Linked DNA regions of Homo sapiens: regions 1 and 3 are each linked to region 2. Evidence: fine-mapped expression QTL. A gene starts in region 2. Each other region holds a variant in brackets. All regions are shown on one strand. Distances are between the middles of the regions.

Region 1 (6,225 bases), 100 kb after region 2:
TCTGGGGCAGGGGCAAGAACCCCTCAACCCCTTCTCCTTCACCCTTAGTGGCAAGTCCCACTTTTCTGGGGGAGGGGAAAGTACCCCTCAACCCCTTCTCCTTCACCCTTAGTGGCAAGTCCCGCTTTTCTAGGGGGCAAGAACCCCCAATCCCTTATTTCCACACCCCGACCTCTTATTTCTGTGACCCAATCCCTTATTTCCACACCCCAACCTCTTATCTCTGTGCCCCAATCCCTTATTTCCATGCCCCAACCCCCCTTCCCACTTTTCTAGGGGGCAAGAACCCCCAATCCCTTATTTCCACACCCTGACCTCTTATCTCTGTGCCCCAATCCCTTATTTCTGTGCCCCAACCCTTTCTCTGCTTTTCTGGAGGGCAAGAAACCCCCACCCCTTCTCCGTGTCTCTACTCTTTTCTCTGGGCTTGCCTCCTTCACTATGGGCAAGCTTCCACCTTCCATTCCTCCTTCTTCTCCCTTAGCCTGTATTCTTAAGAACTTAAAACCTCTTCAACTCTCACCTGACCTAAAATCTAAGTGTCTCATTTTCTTCTGCAATGCCTCTTGACCCCAATACAAACTCTACAGTAGTTCCAAATAGCCGGAAAACGGCACTTTCAATTTTTCCATCCTACAAGATCTAAATAATTCTTGTCATAAAATGGGCAAATGGTCTGAGGTGCCTGACATCCAGGCATTCTTTTACACATCAGTCCCTTCCTAGTCTCTGTGCCCAGTGCAACTCATTCTGAATCTTCCTTCTTTCCCTCCCGCCTGTCCCCTCAGTCCCAACCCCAAGCGTCACTGAGTCTTTCTAATCTTCCTTTTCTACAGACCCATCTGACCTCTCCCCTCCTTGCCAGGCCAAGCTAGGTCCCAATTCTTCCTCAGCCTCCGCTCCTCCACCCTGTAATCTTTTTATCGCCTCCCCTCCTCACACCTGGTCTGGCTTACAGTTTCGTTCTGTGACTAGCCCTCCCCCACCTGCCCAGCAATTTACTCTTAAAAAGGTGGCTGGAGCCAAAGGCATAGTCAAGGTTAATGCTCCTTTTTCTTTATCCCAAATCAGAAGCGTTTAGGCTCTTTTTCATCAAATATAAAAACCCAGCCCAGTTCATGTCTCGTTCGGCAGCAACCCTGAGATGCTTTACAGCCCTAGACCCTAAAAGGTCAAAAGGCCATCTTATTCTCAATACACATTTTATTACCCAATCTGCTCCCGACATTAAATAAAACTCCAAAAATTAGAATCTGGCCCTCAAACCCCACAACAGGACTTAATTAACCTCACCTTCAAGGTGTACAATAATAAAAAAAAGGAAGTTGCAATTCCTTGCCTCCACTGTGAGACAAACCCCAGCCACATCTCCAGCACACAACAACTTCCAAATGCCTGAACCGCAGTGGCCAGACATTCCTCCAGAACCTCCTCCCCCAGGAGCTTGCTGCAAGTGCCAGAAATCTGACCACCAGGGCAAGGAATGCCTGCAGCCCAGGGATTCCTCCTAAGCCATGTCCCATCTGTGCGGGACCCCACTGGAAATCGGACTGTTCAACTCACCTGGCAGCCACTCCCAGCGCCCCTGGAACTCTGGCCCAAGGCTCTCTGACTGACTCCTTCTTGGCTTAGTGGCTGAAGACTGACGCTGCCTGATCGCCTCAGAAGCCCTGTAGACCACCATGGACACCGAGCTTTAGGTAACTCTCACAGTGGAGGGTAAGTCTGTCCCCTTCTTAATCAATATGGAGGCTACCCACTCCACATTACCTTCTTTTCAAGGGCCTGTTTCCCTTGCCTCCATAACTGTTGTGGGTATTGACAGCCAGGCTTCTAAACCTCTTAAAACTCCCCAACTCTGGTGCCAACTTGAACAACACTCTTTTATGCACTCTTTTTTAGTTATCTCCACCTGCCCAGTTCCCTTATCAGGCCGAGATATTTTAACCAAATTATCTGCTTCCCTGACTATTCCTGGACTACAGCTGCATCTCATTGCTGCCCTTCTTCCCAATCCAAAGCCTCCTTTGCGTCCTCCTCTTGTATTCCCCCACCTTAACCCACAAGTATAAGATACCTCTACTCCCTCCTTGGCGACCGATCATGCACCCCTTACCATCTCATTAAAACCTAATCACGCTTACCCGACTCAATGCCAATATCCCATCCCACAGCATGCTTTGAAAGGATTAAAGCCTGTTATCACTCACCTGCTACAGCATGGCCTTTTAAAGCCTATAAACTCTCCTTACAATTCCCCCGTTTTACCTGTCCTAAAACCAGACAAGGCTTACAACTTAGTTCAGAATCTGTGCCTTATCAACCAAATTGTTTTGCCTATCCACCCCGTGGTGCCAAACCCATATACTCTCCTATCCTCAATACCTCCCTCTACTACCCATTATTCTGTTCTGGATCTCAAACATGCTTTCTTTACTATTCCTTTGCACTCTTCATCTCAGCCTCTCTTTGCCTTCACTTAGACTGACCCTGACACCCATTAGGCTCAGCAGCTTACCTGGGCTGTGCTGCCGCAAGGTTCCAGGGACAGCCCTCATTACTTCAGCCAAGCTCTTTCTCATGATCTACTTTCTTTCCACCCCTCCACTTCTCACCTTATTCAATATATTGATGACCTTCTTCTTTGTAGCCCCTCCTTTGAATCTTCTCAACAAGACATACTTCTGCTCCTTCAGCATTTATTCTCCAAAGGATATCGGGTATCCCCCTCCAAAGCTCAAATTTCTTCTCCATCCGTTACCTACCTCGGCATAATTCTTCACAAAAACACAGGTGCTCTCCCTGCTGATGGTGTCTGATTAATCTCCCAAACCTCAATCCCTTACAAAACAACAACTCCTTTCCTTCCTAGGCATGGTTAGTGC[G/A]GTCAGAATTCTTACACAAGAGCCAGGACCCCACCCTGTAGCCTTTCTGTCCAAACAACTTGACCTTACTGTTTTAGCCTAGCCCTCATGTCTGCATGCAGCAGCTGCCGCTGCTTTAATAATTTTAGAGGCCCTAAAAATCACAAACTATGTTCAACTCACTCTCTACATTTCTCATAACTTCCAAAATCTATTTTCTTCCTCATACCTGACGCATATACTTTCTGCTCCCCGGCTCCTTCAGCTGTACTCATTCTTTGTTAAGTCCCACAATTACCATTGTTCCTGGCCCAGACTTCAATCTGGCCTCCCACATTATTCCTGATACCACACCTGATCCCCATGACTGCATCTCTCTGATCCACCTGACATTCACCCCATTTCCCCATATTACAAGCCACTAGCCCATCTCTTAGAACCTCTCATTTCCTTTCCATTGTAGAAATCTATCCTCAAGGAAATAACTTCTCAGTGTTCCATCTGCTATTCTATCTGCTATTCTGCTACTCCTCAAGGATCATTCAGGCCCCTCCCTTCCCTACACATCAAGCTCGAGGATTTGCCCCCGCCCAGGACTGGCAAATTAGCTTTACTCCACATGCCCCGAGTCACAAAAACTAAAATACCTCTTAGTCTAAGTAGACATTTTCACTAGATAGGTAGAGGCCTTTCCTACAGGGTCTGAGAAGGCCACCGCAGTCATTTCTTCCCTTCTGTCAGACATAATTCCTCAGTTTAGCCTTCCCACCTCTATACAGTCTGATAACAGACCAGGCTTTATTAGTCAAATTAGCCAAGCAGTTTTTCAGTTTATATCCCTTATAGTCCTCTGTCTTCAAGAAAAGTAGAACGGACTAAAGGTCTTTTAAAAACACACCTCACCAAGCTCAGCCACCAACTTAAAAAGAACTGGACAATACTTTTACCACTTTCCCTTCTCAGAAGTCAGACCTGTCCTCAGAATGCTACAAGGTACAGTCCATTTAAGCTCCTTTTTATTAGGCCCCAGTCTCATCCCAGACACCAGACCAACTTAGACTGTGCCCCCAAAAAAACTTGTCATCCCTACTATTTTCCGTCTAGTCATACTCCTATTCTCCGTTCTCAACTACTCATACATGCCCTGCTCTTGTTTACACTGCCAGTTTACACTGTTTCTCCAAGCCATCATGGCTGATATCTCCTCATGCTATCCCCAAACTGCCACTCTTAACTCTTGAAGTAAATAAATAATCTTCGCTGGAAGGACTATGCTGAACCTCCTTAGGCATTCTCTAATTAGATGTCCTAGATCCTCCCAATTCTTAGTCCTTTTATACCTGTTTTTCTCCTTCTCTTATTCCATTTAGTTTTTCAGTTCATACAAAACCGTATCCAGGCCATCACCAATCTTTCTGTATGACAAATGTTTCTTCTAACAACCCCCTCAATGTCACCCCTTACCACAAGACCTCCCTTCAGCTTAATCTCTCCCACTCTAGGTTCCCACGCCGCCCCTAATCCCGCTTGAAGCAGCCCTGAGAAACATCGCCCATTCTCTCTCCATACCACCCCCCAAAAATTTTCACCGCCCCAACACTTCAACACAATTTTGTTTTATTTTTCTTATTAATATAAGAAGGCAGGAATGTCAGGCCTCTGAGCCCAAGCCAAGCCATCGCATCCCCTGTGACTTGCACGTATACGCCCAGATGGCCTGAAGTAACTGAAGAATCACAAAAGAACTGAAAAGGCCCTGCCCCGCCTTAACTGATGACATTCCACCATGGTGATTTGTTCTTGCCCCACCTTAACTGAGTGATTAACCCTGTGAATTTCCTTCTCCTGGCTCAGAAGCTCCCCCACTGAGCACCTTGTGACCCCCGCCCCTGCCCACCAGAGAACAACCCCCTTTGACTGTAATTTTCCATTACCTTCCCAAATCCTATAAAACGGCCCCACCCCTATCTCCCTTCGCTGACTCTCTTTTCGGACTCAGCCCGCCTGCCCCCAGGTGAAATAAACAGCCATGTTGCTCACACAAAGCCTGTTTGGTGTCTCTTCACACGGACGCGCATGAAAAAAACCCTTTCATTTTACTGTGGGACGGCAACCCTTTCTGGGACCCCTCTCTGCAGCAGAGAACTGTTCTCTTTCTTTCACCTGTTAAACTTCTGCTTCTGCTCTGACCTCGTCCTTGGTGTGTCTGCATCGTCGATTTCCTCAGCTGTGAGACCAACGACTTGGGCACCCACCCAGGCAACAAGGCCTTTTCAGTAAGGGAAGTGGTAAAATGTTTTCAATCCCTGTTGCCAAAAATCGGCCTAAGGCTTCCCAAAAAAAGTAACCCAAAGCAGACATGGCAAATATTTGCTACATTTGATAATAAGCCAATAAATTATCTGCTAATAAGTGACTGAAATATTTAGCACACATCTGCCTTATTCTGATGACTGATCACATTTCTAGCTCCCCTGTGGACTAAAACAATATGCTTTCCTTCTCTACACAAGCAATGCTTTCTGCAGAGACACAAACTTTACATCTGAATACAAATGCAGCACGTTTTAATTCTGCCTCTCATTCTCCAGCAAAATCATGGGGAAGAAGGAAAACATCCTTAGTCAAAAGGGGTACAGGGACTTAGAACCTCACCATGCTGCAGTCACACAGGCAATAGAGAAAGATGGCGGTGGTTCCCTGGGGCAGTTCCCCTCTCAAGCAAGGAGACAGGGGCAGCACTCCTACCATCTCCCCAGGGATATAGGAGTTAAGAAGGAATTGCTTAGGCAGATAGCAAGGGCATGGGAGTCCTGGGTAAGGCTTTTCTTTTTAATGAAAAGCAGCCCCAAGTCATTTTCTAACAAAGAGCAGCCTGCAAGCTGGGAGCTTGCATAGGTGAATGCCAGCAGGAACTAAGGACTAGACATTTTCAAACTGGTGGCTCCATCTTCCCTTCCCTGCCAGCCAAGTGTATTGTAAGGAGCAGAGAAGATGGCTCTGATCAACTGGAAAGCCTATTTGCATAATTAGATTAGGGTGGGGCAACCAGCCTTCCCCCGCACACTATGTAGACGTCATACCTGATGGAACCAGTCTGTGAGCCCTATGTAAATCAGACACCGCCTTCTCCAACTTATTATATCTGTTTTGGTCCACTGCCTCCCCACTTTTCAGATGTCTCTCTCTCTCTCTCTCTCTAAGAGCTGCTCTCCTCTCTCCTTTCTTCTATCTATTAAATTTTCCACTCCCTAACCCACCCACATGTGATTGTGTCCTGAATTCTTGGTGTGTGACGATGAACCCCAGGGTGTATACCCCAGACAGCACAGCCACTTCACCAGCAGGGACAGCAGCTGTC
Region 2 (5,000 bases):
TTTGATGTTTTATTATTTTCTCCAAATGTTTTATTCAGTATATTCAGTACATGTTATCAGAAAATAATTATGTTTTCTAAAATTTATTTTAGGTTTTGAAACTAACATGAACATAAGTAGCCGAGATGACCCTAGTACGTCAGAAATTACTTCCGAGACTCAAGACAGAAATGCAAATAACCATGGAATTCAGTTATCTAATTCACTATCTAGTGCTATAACTGCTGAAAATGGAAATTCCATCTCAAATGGTAAGCACTTTTTAAACTCAGAAGTAAATGTACAAAAGTTTTAGGCTGTATCAACTTTCTGGGAGGAATGGATTTAAAATATGAAAATGAAGTAGGGTTAAGAACTGGAAAATAGAATATAAACCATGAAACTCCCCTGCAAGTATTATTGTCAGCATATGATTGCTTCAGTTAAAGAATTGGAATTCTATTCACTCCTTGTTGACTTTTCCGAAATTTTATGGAGTGTTAATCTAAAAGAACTGGTCCAAAATTAGTCTTATACTGAGCAGAAGAAGGCAATAGATTCTCTACCAATATTTTTAATTAAAAAATTATTCTGGAAACTAAGAAATGTGAAGGAAAATAATATTAAAGAAATGATAAGTGCCAGACTGGCTTCAGGTATTTTAAGTACATCAATGAGTGCCACATTTAGAAAGTGGCTTGATTGCAGGTACAAAAGCTGAGGATCACGCAAGTATTTTCTCTCACAAATAAAAGAAGACAAAGGCGTCTGGGAATAACTGATGGGAAGACTCAGACCAACTATTCCTGAGGGCCTCCCGCAGGGCTGGGAAAAGCATGTTTGTTTAGTCTAATTAGAGGCGTGGGAGAACCATCATGATGCTGAAATGCTGGGAAGCAGTTGAAGACCTGGGAGTGGGGTGCAAGGTGAGCCGAAGCAAGGAAGCCCACACTTGAAGCTTGGCTCATGGGGACATAAGGGTACCCACATTGTTCAGAGAAGGCAGCTAAGAAGTCAAGTTGTGCTTCTGACTGCCTTCTCAAATTACAGGGCAAGAAACTGAGTCGTGGCCCCACCAAGGCCTTGGGGTGGGGCCTTCAAGTGTTCTTCCCAAGAGTCAGAGTGAACCAGAACCAAGAACCATGTTGAGTTGCCCAGATGTAACCAGGCCTACAGGTACCTGGGAGAAACACGTGTACATTTTCCCCAAAGGGCAGTAATAGCATCCTAGGCTTCAAAACATTCATAGAAACCATTTTTCAAATGCAAAGTCCAACACAGTTAGAAATAACCAGGCATAGGAGCACACAAAATAAGATAAAAAATTAAAAGCAGAGACGGCAGCCAATTGCAATATGTCCACAGGGATTCAAAAGGTTGGAATTCAAAGACACATGCCTTAAAATAAGTATGTTTACTCAGCCCCCCACGAAATAAAACAACGAGAATTTCAGCAGAAATAGGAAACTATAAGGAAATCGTCAAATGGAAATTCTGAAATTGGAAAATGCAGTAATAAAATTGAGTACAACAGAGGATAAAGTTAAATTTAATTAGATATAGTTGTTTAAAAACAAAACAAATAAAAAATAACTGGAGAAGTGGAAGATAACTCAGAAAATCCCCAGAATGAAACAGATTGAAGCAAAAGGGAAGAATGGAAACTCCAGACAATGGTTTAGAGATATAAAGGGCAATGAGGAGGATGATTGAAGTCTTAGGGAAAGAAGAGGGAGCGCATGAGCAGAAGAAAGACTTGGTGAGAAATGTTAGAGCATCTCCCAATGCTGACGAAAGAGCACCAGGAAACAGATTTAAGTTGGCAGATTTTTATAACATTCAACATACATTCTTCACGGGATCCAGCAATCTGACTCCTCAGTATCTTCCCAAGAGAAATGACAGCAGTGTCCACACAAACACCTGTATGCAAATGCATATGGTGACATTATTCATAATCACATAAAACTGGAAATAAATTCAGTGTCTTTCAACTGATGACTGGCTTGTATTAGTGATCCATCACTGTGCAAAATATTACTCCCAAAACTTGGAGGCTTATATAAGAAATGGTTATTATTTCATAGTTTCTGTGGGCCAGGAAGCTGTGTGTGGCTTAGCAGGGTGCCTTTGGTTTAAGGTCCCCCATGAGACAGCAATCAAGCTGTCAGCCAAGACCACAGTCATCTTGAGACTTGAGTGAAGGCTGATCCATTTTCAAGGTCACTCACGTGGCTATTGGCAGGCCACAGAAGGTTCACATCCAAGTCAACTCACATGGGCAGCCTCCCAGCACAGCAGCTCTCCCCACATCCCTGAGCAAGCAATCCAAGAGAGAGCACCCCAGATGGAGGCTGCAGTCTTCACATAACCCAGTCTTGAAAATGACACCCCAGCACTCTGTCACGTTTGATTGAGTCACTAAATCCAGGCCACACTCAATGGGTGGGGAGTCCGTGAGTGCCTGGAGGTGGGCTCACCAGCATCTCACAGGCTGAACTAGCACATGGATGAAGCCTGCAATAAATAAGAGTGATCAACTATAATGAGCATCATAAAAAAAAGGGATGGCTAAAGCATTGTGTTGAGGTTAAAAAAAAAAAATCAAAAGACTAAGTGTGATCCTGCTTATGTAACATTTGGGGAAAAGCAAAGCTGGAGACAGAAAACAGCTGAGTGGTTGCTGGAGGCTGGGCGTAATGGCAGGAGATGAAGTTCAGAAGGACATGTGGTGTTATAGACAACCTGGAGTGCTCATGTCTGCAGATGCACAGATGTGTATGTCTAAAAAAGGTGAATCTCACTGTCTCTAAATTACACCATAATCAATCCAACGTTTGTAAAAATGAAACAGAAACCTTTGCAAAGCCTAAGTAGGATACATAAAACTTTCCTAGGTGTATCATAGTAAAACACCTATAAAATAAAGACCGAGAATTAATTTTAAAAGCAGTTAGAGGTAAAAATATGTACTATCTTCGAAAAGTAGCAACTGAAGTCCAAAGACAATGAAATAACATAGTTAACATGCTCAAATAAAATAACTGCCCCCCAAAAATTCCTGTAATAATGAAAGGGAGTTAAGGATATTTTTAGGAAAAAAAATAAAAATGAAAGGAATTAAACACTGACAGACTCAGAATGCTTAGAGATAAAGGAAAGAATAAAGAATAACTAAAAAGGCAGTAAAATTTGGAGGGGTAAAATAATATTTAATATTATACACTGATAAACCTACCTTGCCAGTTGTAACCTCAAAGGTAACCCCTGAAAGAATATTAGTGGGGTAGATAATATCCAAACTAGTAAAGAGAGAAAAATAAAATCATAAAAAGTCAACTCAAAAGATGCAAAAAGGGGATAAAATAGGAAAAATAGGGCAAGGAGAAAGTTCTGAGACAGTAGATATGAAAACACATGTGAAAATAAACTTTATTTAATTATAATAAACTTTAAAAGGCTTATTTAATGTAAACTTATATGAAAAATGATTAGCAGAATATTTTAAAAACTAAGTTTTCTGAAAACAGTAAAACATAAGGATTCTGAAAGAGTAAATGTAAAGGGATAGAAAAGAAAAAGATACAATGTGCAAATATTAAAAAGCAGCAAAAACAGTGCTCATATATTTGAACGTCAAAAATTACATCTCTAGGCCAGGCGCGGTGGCTCACGCCTGCAATCCCAGCACTTTGGGAGGCCGAGGCAGGCAGATCACCTGAGGTCAGGAGTTCGAGACCAGCCTGGCCAACATGGTGAAACCCCCATCTCTACTAAAAATACAAAAATCAGCTGGGCTTGGTGGTATATGCCTTTAATCCCGGCGACTCGGAAAGCTGAGGTAGGAGAATTGCTTGAACCCAGGAGGCGGAGTTTGCAGTGAGCCCTGATCGCGCCACTGCACTCCAGCCTGGGTGACAGAGCCAGACTTTGTCTAAAAAAATAAGATAAAATAAAATCTCTAAGTAATCAATGTATTCAAGAAGAAATCACAAAATAAATTAAAAAGCAAAATATTTTAACTAATGACAATGCAAATATGACAACAGAACTTTTAGGACATGTCTAATGTCTTTTGTGTATGAGTGGAAGGGGCTCGGGTACAGTGTCGGTATGGTCAATATGTGGCTGTATGGCATCGTGGCCATGGCTGGGCTTTTAGTGTCCACATCAACTGAATAGTATATATTGTCCTGATTAAGTCGTTTCATATGCTTCATTCCATCCCATCCTCCCACCTTGCCACCCTTCTGAGTCTCCAGTGTCTATTATTCCACACTCTGTGCCCAAGTGTACACGTTATTTAGCTCCCACTTATAAGTGAGAACATGTAGCATTTTTCTTTCTGTGTCTTAGTTATTTCACCTAAGATAATGGCCTCCAGTTCCATCCATGTTACTGCAAAAGATCTCTTAAGAAATGGAAATGTATGGCTTCAAACCTTTGCATCACAAGAGAACAAATACGATGAGTGTTAAAAGGGTCTAGAAATTAGAAACAGAACAAAAACTAAATACTATGAAAATGGAAGGAAAGATATGATAGTGATAATAAGAACATAAGTTATTGAAATATAAAACAAATAAAATAATGTGAAGGGATAGAAAGGAAGGAAAGAGAAAGTTGTTTATCTTTTAAAAAATTATCTTTGAAAACAATAAGATTGAAAATTTTCTTGCAAGGGGATAGAGAAATAGAGAAAATTGGCACAAATAACAGATTTTAGATTGAAAAGGGGACATCAATACAGATCTGGCTGAAATTAAAAATAGTAAGAGAATATTACAAACAGTTTTACACCAAGATAAATTTACAAATTTACATAAACAAATACATTCTTAAAAAAAAAAGAACTAACGAAAATGGACAAAAGAAGTAGGAAAGCTAAATAACACCGTAAATGTTAAATTAATGGAATTTGTAATTGAATGCCTTCCTACAAGGAAAATTCCAGAATCAGATGGTTTCTCCACTAAATGTTTCCAAAATTCTAAGGATTAAATAACTCCAATGTCACGTAC
Region 3 (5,000 bases), 9.0 kb after region 2:
TAGTCCCAGCTACTTGGGAGGCTGAGGCAGGAGTGAACCTGGGAGGCAGAGCTTGCAGTGAGCCGAGATCGCGCCACTGCGCTCCAGCCTGGGTGACAGAGCGAGACTCCATCTCAAAAAAAAAAAAAAAAAAAAAAAAAAAGAGTATCTCTGAAAGGGTTGTCCTTGTTTTGATGGGGGGGGGTACTCTCTGCTGTTTTGGAAAAGTGTACCTGATTGTACTATCCAGGGTGAACAATAGAATTGGAAACTGAGTTTGGGGGTGCCAGTTTTGAATTCATTCACTACTTAAGCCTTGGCAGGTTTTGTACATGAAGCAAGAGTATTAAAGACTGTATTGGTGTAGGAGTCAAGAAGAGGAAGGTGTCAAGAACGACTCCAAGAATTTGAGGCAAATGATGGGAGAATACAGCACTCTTAAGAAGGGAAGGGCAATTCCCAAAGGAGGTTAATTCTATAAGCGGATTTGGAGCTCAAGAGAAAAGGACTTCTGATTATGGATGATTTTTCCATAAATGATGATGACAGGTTTGGAGTTTAGGCCAGGGTTCCAGGATAGAAAGAGAAAAGCCAGAATTTTTAAAGAAGCTGGAGACATGGTGGTTATTTATAGCATCAGAGGAACAATCATAAAGAGAAATAAGAAAAGAAATATGACCACTAAACCACTCAGAATGCCAAAGTTTGAGAAATTTACATTGAGAAGGGGGGAAATGGAGACATACAATAGGTGCTCAAGAGATAGAAGACAGATGTCCAATTTCATGGAAATCAAGAGGGTAGTGGATTTAAAGGTGATGGAATACTTGGAAAGCTGGACAGATGTAAAAAGAGAATTCAAACCCTCTTGCCATTGACTAAACAAGTTTGGGTCCCTACAAAATGACAGATTTGACTAATAGATTCTAACCGGTCAGCCATGTAAAATTCAGTGCCATACCCCCCTTGAAAGTCTCTTTCTCATTCTTGTCTTGTCTTTTTTTTTTTTTTTTTTTTTGAGATGGAGTCTTGCTCTGTCGCCCAGGCTGGAGTGCAGTGGCACAATCTCAACTCACTGCAAACTCCGCCTCCCAGGTTCAAGTGATTCTTCAGCCTCAGCCTCCCGAGTAGCTGGGACTACAGGCGCATGCCACCACATTTTTTTTTTTGTATTTTTTTTAGTAGAGGCAGGGTTTCACCGTGTTAGCCAGAATGGTCTTGATCTGCTGACCTCGTGATCTGCCCGCCTCAGCCTCTCAAAGTGCTGGTATTACAGGCGTGAGCCACTGCACCCAGCCCTCATTCTTTTCTTTTTATAAGAATTTACATGAACCCACTACGCTCTGCATGTAGACCTCATGGCCCCAGAGTCTGCCACTTTTCAAAATTACTTCTTTAAAAATCACACAGAACTCCAGGGACCAGGTCTACACCACAGTGATGAGGAGGATGTCCTAAAAGCCATTCCTCTTTGTGTCCTGCAGGAAGGTTTAACTTTCAGTGCTCTGAGCAGCCTCCAATTCAGGAGGAGAGGGAGAACAGAGGCTGCTTCTTCCTGCTAAACCTTCAATCAAGGCCAAAGCCTTTTCGACTTTTGCCCACCCAAGTTTGAAGGAGCAGCAGCAGGTTCTATGGAGTGTCCACAGCATATCCATTATGCCATGGAGATCAGCTTTGGGGAATTCCTTCCCCTGAACATCTGCATGTTTTCTTTGAGCAGAAGAGCTGGCTATCTGGAGGGTAGAGTAGGGTGGACGCAGTTTCAGAAGACCTTGATTTGCTGTCATTTGGGCAAGAATGGCTTTTTGAAATAGTTTGGTATCATAATGGACCAAAAGCTCAACTTTTTGAAGCACACTATTGCCCTGGAAAGAATGTGTTCAGCAAGGGACACATGAATCTCTAAGCTGGGAATTGTTAACTCCAAGCCTGGTCTGGGGAGAAGGCTGCTACAGTAAGAGGAGCAGTGGGGGCTTCTCAGAATGTGCAGAAGCTCCTTCTCAGACAGAATTCCACCTTTTAATGAAGGCACAGATAAAGAGCTCCATCTTCACTTTAAATGTTC[CTCCAACACGATTGGAGTCT/C]TCACCCTGGTTAAAATGCGCCGTGGGATTCTCTACCCACGCAGGACTGTGGGACTTTTCTGGAGGCCTTTGCTTAGCAATGTTCCCTTTAGCTGCGTGAGAAAATCCTTGCTATGTTAAAAAAAAAAAAGTTCTTGTCAGTTAAGGACACATGTACAAACATTTACAGCTGAAATGACATGATTTCTGGGATTTAAGTGAAAAATGAATAAAAAATGGATAAAAATGGATAAAATTGACAGCCCCAAGGCTTGGAATGGGTGCATGGAGTTTCACTGCATATTCTCTTTATGTCTGAAATGTTTGTAATAAAAAGTTTTAAAACTGTGTTATTTTGATAGATAGAATGAATGTTACGTAGTCTCATATCCATTACTTGGAATTCTTAATGAAATTGAATATGTGTATTACTTATTAGCCATTCATATTTTCATATTTTTTCTCCTTTATTTTCTAAACTTTTATTCTTTGTCCATTTTTTAATATCTGGGATCTGTAGGATGTTTGAAGAATTAAAAAAGCCTCTTATTTAATATATTTCAATGTTCTACATTGTTCTTTTAAAATACACATTTTATTTTTAGGGCATTGTCAATATGTTTATTTTTAATGTTTATAGAGAGACATGAATCCGTTTTCTTTTTTTTTATTCATGGTTTGTGCGTTTGGTGTCATTTTAAAATAATTTGCCTTAAAAAGGTACTGCTTCTAATACGGCAGCTAAATAAAATATTGTGCTGGTAAAAAAAAAAAAAAAAAAAAAAAAGACCTCCTTTGCACCTTTGGCGCTTCCTGGCCGTCACTTTGTCCCTTCCAGTTCTCAAAATGTTACTGCGTTGGCCGTGATGAGGACCCTTGGCCTGTTTGCTACAACCTTCAAAAAATCCCCTTCCCTCTGACTTCTCGGGCCCAGTCGCTTGTCCCACCCCCTCCTCCACATGCCCGTCTCCCCCAGCACCCACTCACCTGCCTCCCTCCCCGCTGTCCTCACCTGGCCCTCCACCTGCATGCGACCACCTGCCCAAGCTGCCATATGTCCCTGTCTGTGGAGCCCTGACACAGGTTCTGGGACCCATTCTTTCTTTAGTCAACAGTTATGAATGAAATACCTTTGAACTCATTACTTAGATAAAATGGTGTCACTTCTCTTCTGGGAAGTCTGCAGTGCTACCTATCGTCTCCAAAGTGTGGTCACATTTCCGCGAAGCGTCCTTGTGTTTTGTTGCCTTATCACATTTGTGCTCTCAGCCAGGCATGTCCTTCTCGACTTTGTTCGCCCTCCACAATTCTCCTCCTCCTCGAAGGCCCAGGTCCTTTAGCAACACCACCATGAAGTTTACTCTAGTCCGTTCCATCAGAATGCATCCTTACCTTCTCCAAGACCCTGTTCAACGTGACCTGTACTCCTCTTAATCCTGAAATCATGCTGCTGTGTGTTTGGCCTCAGTGCCATTCTCACTGAATTGACTTTCTCAAGGGTGGGGACTTTTCTTCGTTCTTCCTTGTATTTCTCAGCGCCTTATGCAGCGGTTGCTCATAAATGTTTTTAACCTTAATTTAATTGACTCTATGCAGTGCTCAGCAGGCTATCGATTCCGCTCTGAGCTTATACCCTTTCAACTGAGTTTCTGTTTTGATTCTGAGATCCAACTTCTAATTTTATGTATTTATTTATTTATTTATTATTTATTTATTTATGTTGAGATGGAGTCTCACTCTGTCACCCAGGCTGGGGTGCAATGGAGCAACCTTGGCTCACTGCAACTCTCCCTCCCAGGTTCAAGCGATTCTCCTGCCTCAGCCTCCTGAGTAGCTGAGACTACAGGTGTGCACCACCGTGCCCGGGTAATTTTGTATTTTTAGTAGAGATGGGATTTCACCGTGTTGGCTGGGCTGGTCTCGATCTCCTGACCTCAGGTGATCCGCCACCTTAGCCTCCCAAAGTACTGGGATTACAGGCGTGAGCCAGTGCACCCAGCCCCGACTTCTAATTTATAATTTAGGTTTGAAAAATGGATCACATTTGTCTTCTCCTGCCACAGATCCCCTGTCTTAGTAAGACATCTGGTGAACTGGTTTCTTTATGGTTCCTATAGAAGTGAAGGTTTATCTTGCTTATCAATCAGCCCCTTCCTCCCAGCACCCCATCCTTTATTCCCCTCTAAGAGGTGGTCCTTCACATGAATCCCAAGCCCTTTGTTGTGCCCTACTACCCGGAAACACATTTTTTTTCCAACTATCTGCTTTATCTAGTTTCCTGAAATTTCATATTGTGCCTGATCTTGGATTGACACACTCCCTTCCGCCTGTGTGAATTTCAGGCTGCTCTGACACTCACTGTGATTGGAGCCTTTCCTGTGTCCTGCCACCACAGTGTCTAAGGACACTATTGCCACGTAGCACCTGAGGCTACTGCTGCTGCCTGTGGCCGAGATCTGTTCTCCAGCAAGAGACCCCCCCCACCCACTAGCCATTGTCCGCCCAGTCTTCATGAAGTTAGCTTTTCCATACCAAGGTATCTGGACATGTAACAAGATCACCTGGAAGGCCTTGTTGTGTGTTGACAGGATTGTGTCGACTTCCCTGAGGAACTCTCTCCTATAATTGGAAAAGCGTGCACTGATTGTCTAATGATTTTTAATTTAGGAATTATGTATATGTTTAATCAATTACCTGTGCTAGTTAATTATGCTTTCAGAGGAGAGTAGTAATCACTTCAGTATTTAAAGTTCTCTGAGTTGAATTCATTTTGTTGGGTTCTTATTTCTCTTTTTGTCTATTCATGTTTATTAATCGAAGTCACTTGCGGTGATGCATTGCGCCTGTATCACAGTGATTCTCAGCCCGTGTAGGAGGGGATGACTTTGCCCTCCAAGGAACTTTTGGCAATGTCTGGGAACATTTCTGGGTGCCACAAATGGGGGTGCTGCTGGCATC

Evidence for each region. PIP is the estimated chance that this variant, and not a neighbour inherited with it, causes the effect.
Region 1: its variant is fine-mapped to the expression of MYO16-AS1 in whole blood (INTERVAL, PIP above 0.99). The same link has a PIP of 0.9 or more in tibial nerve.
Region 3: its variant is fine-mapped to the expression of MYO16-AS1 in whole blood (TOPMed, PIP 0.94).

What each region holds. Positions count from the first base shown.
Region 1 is chr13:109,266,171-109,272,395 of GRCh38, forward strand. It overlaps LINC03061 (long intergenic non-protein coding RNA 3061), which reads left to right. Exons shown (of 2, transcript NR_185883.1): 2 at 1,441-4,905. It overlaps LOC130494219 (a long non-coding RNA gene), which reads left to right and starts at 6,033. Exons shown (of 2, transcript NR_185888.1): 1 at 6,033-6,225. RefSeq lists enhancers at 1,101-2,059, 4,577-5,305. The variant G/A (reference allele first, on the strand shown) is at 2,886.
Region 2 is chr13:109,164,809-109,169,808 of GRCh38, forward strand. It overlaps MYO16-AS1 (MYO16 antisense RNA 1), which reads right to left and starts at 2,495. Exons shown (of 3, transcript NR_047700.1): 1 at 2,211-2,495; 2 at 1,828-1,902. MYO16 (myosin XVI) reads left to right here. Exons shown (of 35, transcript NM_001198950.3): 33 at 93-251.
Region 3 is chr13:109,173,773-109,178,772 of GRCh38, forward strand. All of the region lies in intron 33 of MYO16 (myosin XVI), which reads left to right. Among named protein-coding and RNA genes, the nearest start is that of MYO16-AS1, 9.0 kb to the left of the region's middle. The variant CTCCAACACGATTGGAGTCT/C (reference allele first, on the strand shown) is at 2,045.